Regions from separate parts of the Homo sapiens genome. Here region 2 is linked to region 1. A link means that fine-mapping ties the variant in region 1 to the expression of a gene that starts in the linked region. Tissue or cell type: lung. Region 1 holds a variant in brackets; the other region holds the start of a gene. All regions are shown on one strand. Distances are between the middles of the regions.

The links. PIP is the estimated chance that this variant, and not a neighbour inherited with it, causes the effect. A credible set is the group of variants that fine-mapping cannot tell apart.
Region 2: NTRK3 starts here. The variant in region 1 is the best candidate, but not a certain one, in a credible set for the expression of NTRK3 in lung (TOPMed, PIP 0.57).

Annotation. Positions count from the first base shown.
Region 1 is chr15:88,095,923-88,101,295 of GRCh38, forward strand. The region is part of intron 13 of NTRK3 (neurotrophic receptor tyrosine kinase 3); the gene reads right to left. Among named protein-coding and RNA genes, the nearest start is that of MIR11181, 150 kb to the left of the region's middle. The variant A/T (reference allele first, on the strand shown) is at 2,551.
Region 2 is chr15:88,254,199-88,259,571 of GRCh38, forward strand. It overlaps NTRK3 (neurotrophic receptor tyrosine kinase 3), which reads right to left and starts at 2,541. Exons shown (of 20, transcript NM_001012338.3): 1 at 2,446-2,541; 2 at 2,086-2,288; 3 at 1,708-1,970. The coding sequence starts at 1,955. All of the region lies in intron 1 of NTRK3-AS1 (NTRK3 antisense RNA 1), which reads left to right. RefSeq lists enhancers at 685-1,222, 1,223-1,759, 4,100-4,394.

The sequences.
Region 1 (5,373 bases):
CAGAAAGCCCAATCTCCTTCTGCAGTGGTCATTTGTCCATTTTTAGCAGCCCAGCATTCATTCCCTAACAGCGATTTGATTTTCTATCAAGGAATTATCTTTCTTCTATTGTGTGTAGTATAAATGGGAAAATAATTTTAGGTGGTGACCTCTAAAAGGAAGCCAAAGTGACTTTGCTCCCCATTTCCTTCCCCAGAACAAACAGAGGGAGGGAACACAGGGCATCCTAATCATGCTGTTCTCCGAGATGCTAACTGTCCTGCCAGTTTATTCCAGCATGGGACAAAATCTTATTCTCTCCCATCCCCAATCCTGACCAGCCCTCTCCTCCAGGCCTTATTACATCCAGAGAGCCCCCAGCATCCCTCCATCATTTACATTTTGCCTGGTTAGCCAGAATCAGTTTCTGTGGCTTATATAAAAGAATATGGACTGAATCACCCACGATGACTATCAACCAAGGATGACCTGGTTGGGAAAAGCCCCACTGGAGAAGACCCTACTTCACCATGACACAGGCCCAGAGGCAGGTGCTGCTGAGGCCCCACTCATATCCCTGGCCCACCTGAGTCTCCTGGCAAAGACAGCAGGCAGTTCAGCCCCCAAACTACACCCACCTCAAGAGCCTGCATCCTTTTTCTTTGCCTAAGGACTTTCTCCAGCACAGTAAGAGCAAGCTTGGCCTTAAGCAGGTACAACCCAGAAGTGTGGGGTAATTAATACCACTGGAACAACCCATAACTAATTAATGGAGGACAGGAGTCACTAAATACATGTTCCAGTCCCTGCATCTGCAGTGGAGAGCAACTTTGAGGCAGGTGCCACCCAGTTTCTCAGACGGTCCCCAGCAGGACTAAGCTCCAGTTACCCACTGCAGCAATCCACTCACTGTCACGCTCTTTCTTGACTTTATCATCTCCCTTTCATATTGCCCGCTTGCTCCCTAATGCATCCTGGAATCACCTCCCAAATAAATTACCTGCACATCAAGTCCTTATCTCAGAGTTGACTTTTGGAGAACCAAAACTAAGATTGAAAAGCAAAGAAGGATTTGACAGCCTTTCTAAACAAAAGAAGAGAGTCTGGTAGTGCTTTAGGCTTATGGCTCAAAGCTGTGCTATCCACAACAGTGGTCACTAACCACATGTGGCCACTGAGCACCTGAGACTTGGCTAGTGACACAGGCTGACATGATAGCATCTCTGATATATTGGGCTAAATAAAATATAGTATTACAATCAATTTCACCTATGTCTTTTTATTATTAACATGTCTACTAGAAAATTTAACGTTACATCCTTGGCTGGAATATATTTCTATTGAACAGTGCTGGTTAAAGAGGTGTGTCAGAGAACAGTTGGGATATTATTGCTACTATCATTAATGCTGTTAGCATGACAAATGTACCAGAGGACTATGAAGAGTGTGATTATGTATATGTCTACCTGAGTAACTCCTAGAGTGACAGGAACGCACTGATAAGAACTATTTTTACACAGTACAAGAAGAGGAATGGGAAGAGATAGTCTCATACACTGATAGAGGCTTTGTTGATTGGTCAAACTCTTCTCTAACACACTTTAGCAACATGTTTATCCTCACGCTTAATATAGTAATTCCACCACCAGGAATCTAAGGTATAGGATAATCCTAACTAAGGAAAACATACATACAAAGATGTTCACCTCATTGTTACTGATAATAGTATTTGTAACTTAAGTGACCAATAAACGGGGAATGATTAAATTTAAAAAGACAGATTTACTTGGATTGAAAAGCACGCAATCTTTAAAAACGATGGTTATAATGATTACATAATAATATGGAGACTATTTATGATATACTATGTGAAAGTAAAGACACAAAATTGCATCTACAGCATGATAAATATGTAACAAGGACTAGAAGGAAAGGTGCCAAGATGTAAACAGTGTTTATTTTGGGGTGCTAGCACAAGGGTGATTTACTGTTTTTCTCTATTTCCCAAGTTAGTTTCATGGACATTTGCTACTTCGGTAACAGAGAACCAAGAAAACGACTATCTTCTTTAAAAAATGTGAACTGCTAAAAGTGTGTACTTTTTGCAAAGGATGTTTTATTCTACAGTGTCCTTCCATTTTGCCAAATTTATGTTATAAAAATCTATCTTTTCCTCTGACAAAAAGAAACAAAGGTAAATCTAGTTCAAGCTGCTACTGAAAGGATAAGGCCAATAGGAAAAGCACTGTTTATAAGCAGCAAGTGGACTTTGAGCACGGAAGAGCAACCGGGGTTTATAAAGAGTAAATCACACCCCACCACGGAAGTGATATCTTTTCTTAATTGGCAAAAACGAGCGAGTGGCCAAGGAAAAGGGAGGCAAGGTGAGAGAGTGGGATTTCAGAGAATCTGTTGACGTAGCATCTACCAAAATCTCCCTTGGAAAATTAATCCAAATTGGCTGGACTACGCATGCCATCAGCTCCCAACATTAACAAGGATCATAAGCTTTATTTACAAGGGCTTATCTTTCAAGCCACTCGTGGAGCTTCAGCAAGCCTCGCGCATGAG[A/T]CATTAAGGCGCTTGGACAAGGATAACAGCAACCTGGGTGGGATGGAAATACTCACCAGGAGACGGTAAACAACAGAACTTATGATAAAATGCAGTTTCTTTTCTTGAGCAGAGGGCCCCAGATAGCGGGCCAGCTATGGCGAGGTTGGAGTGAGGCCTAGAGAACGTGTTAACATCTTTATTAACAATCTGGAAGAAGATGTAAACAGAACATTAATTCACAAGGAATAAATCCGCAGGGGCCAGAAGACTAGAGGAATTACAGAAAAGGATGGGGAGGAGCAAAACCAAGAGGAAAGGAACATGGGAGAGATGGAGTGTGAAAGACAGGCATTCATCTTGGGCCCAAAATCAAGGGAGCTGCTCAGAAACTCAGTAATCAAGAGAGATAATACTGTAATGTGATATGCTATGAAAACAAAATTAATGCAAAAAATCTGTAGGTTTAAAAAAGTCTTGATTACTGGGGTTTTTAATTTGTGGCACCCTCTTAAATTTTTTGCCCAAAGCGAAGGGCTCATATACCTCACCTTAATCTTGCAAAGGTGGTAGGGGTGATGAACGACAAGATGTAACAGCCAAGGCCACCTGGAGAGCACAGGGCTGAAAGAGCATTGTAGTGGGTGGTGTGTAAGCCTTGGTTTTTCCAGAATAGAGGCTGAAGATCATCCAGGAGGCTGTGAGAGGCTCCAGGGAGGTGACCGGTACAGTGTATTGGGCAGCTTATTAGTAGAAAGATGGCAGCAACTTGGAAGGAATTCACAGAACCAGGGAAAGCCGTCAAAATGTGGAGCACGACTGACTTTGGAAGGGAAAAGGAAAACATGGTCCAGCTGATGAAAAGAAAAAAGATGATTTGGAGAAGGAACATGGAAGAGAGAAGGTGCTTTGGCTACAGTACCTGCTAAAAGCTAAAAAAGTCTCTCATCAAGAGAGGCTGGACAAGGGGAAATGACTGCAAAGACGTGTATTATGAACAGGAACATGGATTCAAAATTTAGATCCTTCATTTTACTGACTGATCTCATCCCTTAGTTGGCCAGGTATTCCCTGAAACTCTTAATGATTCATGAAACAAAGAGGCTAGAACTTAAGTCCATAAAAGTGCAAAATGCCACAGCAGTAGGAACATGGCATCGGGAGCTAAGAGCCTGGGTGCTAGCCGGGTCTGCCACAATCAAAACTGTCCTCAGAGAAGTCACTTGATCTCTCTGAGTCTCCAATTCTGCATCCAAAAGCAGGGGTGGGGGAAACTTAAAAGCAACTGTCTTTTATTCTATGACCACATTGACTTAATAGTTACTAAGTGCTCACATGAACAAAAAACAAACATTAAAACTGGAAATTGAACGCTATGGTGGGGCGGTTCACATAGTTAGAGATAACCGACAGCATGGACTAGCCCCACACACATCTACTGAAAAGGCTTCAGGATTTGGGGAGGGGGACATGGAGTTGACAAGGATACTTTGCACCTTCTCTGGCCTTTTGAGGACTCTACGGTTAAAAGTTAACTCCAAGGGCAGCAATGGACAGACAAAGCTTAAACTACAGATTGTTTAAGCTTGTTTAATTAAGCTTGAATTACTCTTCCAGTGATGAGGATAAAGGTTTCCCCATCAAATTCCTTGAAGCTCACTCCTCACTCCTGTGTTCCCTAAAACCCCCATGTGCTGGCCCCAGTGCTGGCCACCTTTCAGATATAAGCTTTCCTAAGATTCTGTTGTGAAAGGGAGACACACACAGCAAAGAAGCAAAATGAGAATCAAGCTCTGCTCCAAAGAACAATGCAAGAGGCTTCGGTGCTATTACAAGTGTGTTATAACCAAACAGCCAAAAGGACTGATCCTCCCAACACCCCTGTTCTCCACAGGGCTCCCATCTGGAGAGCCATATGCAGAAAATACTGGCTGGGGGGAACCAAGTATTACATAGTTAACAACTGAGCTGGCAGCCAGCAACTCCCAGTAGTGAGCTGGTAAACCTCAGATGGCGGAAACAGAGTTTACCATTCCATCTTCTGTGAATTCAAGCAAGCCTCAGCTAATTTACCCACCTGATAGCAGACAGCAGTGCAGAGAACAAAAAGAGACATGCAGCCAGGATGTCACAGAAGAAGGGCATAAGAAAAAGTATACTGCATGGGTACTGACCTTTCAGGCAAAGGAAACCTGCCCACTTGAAAACATGACCCTCTGAGTGAATGCCTGGGGCTCTGTCCCATCAAATTATAAACTCCTCCTACCTTAAAAATCTGATCTTTGACAAACCTGACAAAAACAAGAAATGGGGAAACGATTCCCTATTTAATAAATGGTGCTGGGAAAACTGGCTAGCCATATGTAGAAAGCTGAAACTGGATCCCTTCCTTACACCTTATACAAAAATTAATTCAAGTTGGATTAAAGACTTAAATGTTAGACCTAAAACCATTAAAACCCTAGAAAAAAACCTAGGCAATACCAGTCAGGACATAGGCACGGGCAAGGACTTCATGTCTAAAACACCAAAAGCAATTGCAACAAAAGCCAAAATTGACAAATGGGATCTAATTAAACTAAAGAGCTGCTGCACAGCAAAAGAAACTACCATCAGAGTGAACAGGCAACTTACAGAATGGGAGAAAATTTTTGCAATCTACTCATCTGACAAAGGGCTAATATCCAGAATCTATAATGAACTCAAACAAATTTACAAGAAAAAAACAAACAACCCCATCAAAAAGTGGGCGAAGGATATGAATAGACACTTCTCAAAAGAAGACATTTATGCAACCAAAAGACACATGAAAAAATGCTCATCATCACTGGCCATCAGAGAAAT
Region 2 (5,373 bases), 160 kb after region 1:
CATCCACCCCCTACACACATACACATACAGCCCCAGCAATGCACTTCCAAGTCTGAGTTTCCCTAACAGTCTCACTCTGAACCCTTCTCCCTGCATCCTTGGGAATGCTGGAAGCCTGTGGCCTGCAGTGGGGGAGAGGCACAGTTGGGTCTGTCCTGTTCCTCCTGCCCTCCCTGCTGACCCCCGCCCCTTGGCTGTTTATCTTGTCATCTCTGGCCGGGTTGAAGAGGGTAAGGGGGTGAACAGCAGAGCTGAGATATGGGTCAAGCTTGTCTCCTGGGCCAGGAGTCAGAGACATCTCCTGGGCTATCCATTTCCCTCAAACTGTCAGCTGCGAGAGCGCAAGCAGAAGCTCCATTAAGCCGAGAGGGCTGGTGGGCTTTCCAAAGAGCAGGACTGCAATTCCTCCAGGCTTTGCAGCCCCATGGCCCTGGGCTGAAGCAAGGGGAGGTGCTCCCAGAGCAGCACCAAAGGCAGGTCCGGCCCCCTTAAGTCCGTCGAAGGGGTAAAGAGCCACCCAAAATGCCTTCCTCCAGACCTTGGCCAGGACCTCAGCACAAACCCTTCTCAGCTGCCTACCCATTGCTGAGGGTCCCCAAGGGCTGGAAGCCTTGGGGGAAAAGAGGTGAGAATTATCCTCTGAGCAATTCCAGTATGGTCCACACCCTTCTCCAGGGTGGTAGGTTAGGAAGGGGTCACCTGGCCGAGGTCAACGAAAGAAAAGAGGAGCAGACTCTCCAGTCCCCAGCCCTCGATCTGTCCTCTCCTTTGCGTCTGCTGCCATCCCCACCAAAGAAAAATAGCAAGGAGAAAAGAGCAGGCCACCACTGGTCTCCCTCGGAGGGGGCAGAACCAAGCAAAAGCCAGCCAGAGTTGAATGTTCCAAATGAACCGATCCGCACGATCACACAAGAAACCCCTCTCCTCAAAACACACGCCCTCTCCTCTCCCTGCGCCATCCTGACTCGGAATAGTTCCGAGCAGTTATCAAAGCCCAAACTGGGAAGGGATCTGTAGGCGCCCAGATGCAGATGAGGGTGGCAAAGGGGTGTCTCGGAAATGCCCAAAATGGGGCTGGAGAGGGCGGGCTGCAGGAGGGGAAGGGAAGAGGTAGGCGTCCATGACGGCCTCCACACGTCCAAAGTCTCCCCGCGAGCAGCCAGCTCGCAACTTGTTTACTTGTCAGCATGTTTTGCTGTTTCCAAATGGAAATAGTTAAACACCTCGGCTGGATCGCGAGCAGTCCCTATCTGTCACCTTCCCTGCCGGCTAAGCGCTGCCGCCGCTGCCACCGCCGCTGCCGCCTCTGCCAAAGAATCGAACCTCGTCTACTTTATTCCACTTGAGCGTGGCCAAACTGTTGCTATTTAGTGGGGAGCAAAAAAAAACAATTTGCACCATCGAAACGAGCCAGCAACTGGTTGGGAGGCGGGCGGTAGCTGGGCCCCGCGTGCCCTCGGCGGCCGGGGTCCTCTCCGGGGAGAGGCACACACACGCATAGCCGGATCGCGCCTCGCCAGGGCCGGAGTCACCTGGAATGCGCAGCCGGAGAGCATCTCCCGAGCCAGAGCGAGCCTGACGCGCGCCCAGCGGGCGGCGGGCAGCGGCGAGCTGGGGCGGGCGGAGGGCCGGCTCCCGGCCGCGGGTGGGCAGGAGGGAGACGCAGAGCGCGGGGGAGGCAGGCTGGGGAGCGGCCGCCTGACTTACATGGAAGTGATATTCCTTGAGATGTCCGTGATGTTGATACTGGCGTTCCCATTGCTGTTCCCTGAATCCTGCCCTTCCAGGAGGGGGAAGAGGTTCCCATCGTCCGGCCGCCGGCAATTGATCTCAGTCTTGCTGCAGACACAATTTGCAGGGCAAGCCAGCACGGAGCCCACATAGTCCAGCCAGACGCTTCCCAGCAAGAAAATCCGCCAGAAACTACACTTGGCTGGGCAAAGAGAGACATCCATCTCCGATCGCTGCTTCTAAAAAAGAGGAGGAGGAGAGGAGAGGGGGGTGGGGTGGGGGGAGTGGGGAGAGCAGGGGGGGAAGGAAACAAAGACGGCGAGGGAGGGGGGAAGGGGGAGGGGGGGCCTCTGCCTTTGAAACGCCGAGCGATCAGATGCAAAATCCTTCAGCGTCTGAAACCATCGCGGACGCCGCCGCCGCCGCCGCCGCCGCCGGGTGGGAGCCGCGAGGAGCGCCTAGTGGCGCGGTCTGCCGGGCATGGTGGCCGGCTCGGCGATCGCTGACTCGCCGGGTCCGGGGGCTCTGGAAGCGAGGCGCGCTCTCCGACTCCGAGACTTTGCAGGGTTGCAACAGACGGTGGGGAGGCAAAAAAAAAAAAGGAAAAGGAAAAAATGGTGCTAAAGTCACCAAGTCCCACCTACTGGGCAGAATTAAAACGGACACACCACGCACCTGCAAAACACACACACTCACTCTCACACATACACACACCCGGAGCCCGAGGAAAGGAAGAGAAGGAAGATGCAGTAGGAGCTGCAGCAGCCGCCGCGAATGGCTCGCCGCGCGGCTGCAGAAATGTACAAGTGCTCCGAGCCTTACGAAACGCACGGGTTATCGGAGCGTCTTCCTCGGCTCCCTCCCTCCCTTCCTCCCTCCCTCCTCCCCTCCCTCGTCGCGGCCTCCTCCCCCCGCCCCCCGCCCGGGCTGGGAGCGGCAGGAGAGCGGAATCTCCCCCTCCCTCCCCTCCCCACACCCGTCTCTCTCCCCGCCTGTCCTCTCCCTCCTCCCCACCCACCCACCCACCCACTCGCCGGCTCGCGGCTGTAGCCGGCACCGCCACCCGCAGCCTCGCGGCAGCCCGCCCGCTCCACGCCTCGCAGCGCGGCGCCCGCTAGCCGCAGCCCGGGGGAAACCGAGACCGAAGGGAAAAAGTTGCATTTGAGATTGCGAGGGTCGGGGCTGGGGAGGGAGAGTTGGCGAGCTGGCTGCACGACACGGAAAGGCGCTCTCCTTTCCACTTTTTGGCCCTCGCGCTACCCGGTTTTGCTGCAATCCGGACCGCGGTAGGAAGTGAAATGAACGTGGCGGAGGTGATTGGGGAGTGCTCCCAAGCCTTGGGTGGGGGGCGCTCCCAAGCCTGGGTGGGTGGGGGGCGCAGGCTCACGGACGGCGACGGGGGGTGCCGGAGCGCACAGACACCCCAGAGAAGCACCCAGAGCCGGGGACCGGGACCGCAGACGCGCAGTCCTTGGTCTGAATGACACTCATTTCCGTAATCTAGAGTCTGGGGCTCTGGTCTTGGCTGGGAGGGGACTGCGGGACATGGCACGCTAGGTGCCCCCCGTGCCCGCTGCGCTTTCTTGGAGGTGGGTTTTGCATTCGGCCTTGAGCAGGCATGGATCGGGGAAGGAAGAAACAGGGGTCGAAAGGGCTGCGCTGGAGAGCCGAGGTGGCCCCGGGCGAGCTGTGCGTGCAAGAGAAATGGCCGGGGGAAATTGAGATGCAAGGGGCATATTTTGGCAAGCGCCACGCCAGCACCGTCAGAGGCCGGCTTCTCGGGCTCAGCTCTCGGGTGAGCTGAGCTGGCTGCCGGGTGAGGGGGCGGGCGGGCTGCTTTCTCCGGATTCGGGGGCGCAGAACCTCCTCCTTCCCTCCCACACAAGCACCCCTTCCTGGTAGGGACGCAAAGCAGGTGCAGCTTTCGACGAGAGCTCAGATCTCATCCGGGAAAGAAGTGTGTGTGGGGGGGGCCCCGCTTTTGCGCTGGTAGGGATTTTTTTCTTAATAAAACATAAAGATGCCAAGTGTGAGCTGTTTGCTGAAAAAAAAAAAAACGAGCATTCGCTGTGGGAAAGGAGAAGAAAGGGTTAGGGGAGTCCGAGCAGGCAGACACACTACAGCATTCACACGCAGAAGAAAGCAGGGTTCTCCTTCCCGAGCTTGGAGGAGGGCAGGCGAGGAAGCAAAATACATTGAATTCAATTCAACTGCATCCAGTATCTGAAAGGAGTCTCCCCCGCCCCCCTGTGGATTCCGATGCAGGTCATGCAACTTGCAGGCAAGATGGGGGAAGGGGTATGCCGGTGTCACCGCCTGCCCCAGGCGCAACCACAAACAGGCCGGTCGCCTTCGGGTGGCACTGTCGCTTGGAGTAAAAACTTGGACGAAAAAAATGGAAGAAAAGAACATGCCTATACAAGGCAGTTTTCCCGACTTCCCGTCACGTTCCACCTTCCCTTGGCCCCAGGGAGATTTTTACCCCCGTCGCCATTATGGCCTTGTCTCCAGACTGGCATTTTGCCCTCCCACCAGCAGGCGGGGACAGAGTGTGAAGACCTCCTTGGACTCTCAAACCACTTGCTACTGGCCCTAGGCCAATCCTGGCTGTCCTTAGGCCACTGGGAATTTCCCTGTCACTTCAAGTGCCATTCTGGGATTGGCTTTAGAATATCTGAGAGTCAGGAAACTGAGGTGTAGTCAGATCCTAACACTTGGCCTCTCTTGGGAGGTGGCAGGTGGCAGCAGAGAAACACAGCCTCTCTCAGACCACTCCTGGGCAGGGAACGCCAAGTGGATTCAGCCCAGCATCAGTGCTCCAGCCTGGAACTGAAATGGTTGTGTCCAAAAGATGCCCAGCCCACTTTTTTGAGAGAGAGAGAGAGAGAGAAAGAAAGAGAGAGAGAGAGGATTTTTAACATGTCAAGCAGAGAAGAAGAGACATCCATAAGTTAGAACAACAAAAACAACAACAACAAAAAACCTTTAAAAACCCCTCTGGATTTGGTAAAAATGCAGATTGTGGAGCAAGGGGCCCTGATGGGCAAGAAGTCTTTCATCCTGACAGTAAAATGGGATTAAGATGGGGTGCTACGTTTATGCTCACACTCTGGGCCTGAGCAGGAAGCGACAGCTGAAAAAGAGGGAAGCCCTTTCAAAAGCAGGTGACGCATGGACACATAGAGGGGACAATGCACATGAGGGTCTACCAGAGGGTAGAAGGTGGGAGGAGGGAGAGGATCAGGAAAAATAACTCATGGATACCAGGCTTAATACCTGGGTGATGAAATAATCTGTACGACAAACCCCATGACACATGTCTACCTGTATAACAAAGCTGCACATCCTACACACGTACCCCTGAACTTAAAGGTTTAAAAAAAAAAAGCAGGTGATAGACTAGAGTGGGGAAGAGCAGAATTTCATTTCTAACCACAGGGAAATGACAAGCTTTCTGGGACTCCGCTTTCCCATCTGTAAAATGACCACGTTAAGACCAGATCCTCAAAACCCAAAGTGTGGCCCTCTGTCCAGTAGCATCCATATCACCTGGAAGCTTGCAAGAAGTGCAGCATCTGAGGCCCCATCACAGACCTCCCAAACCAGAATGTCCATCAGAACAAGCTCCCAGGTGATTCATAA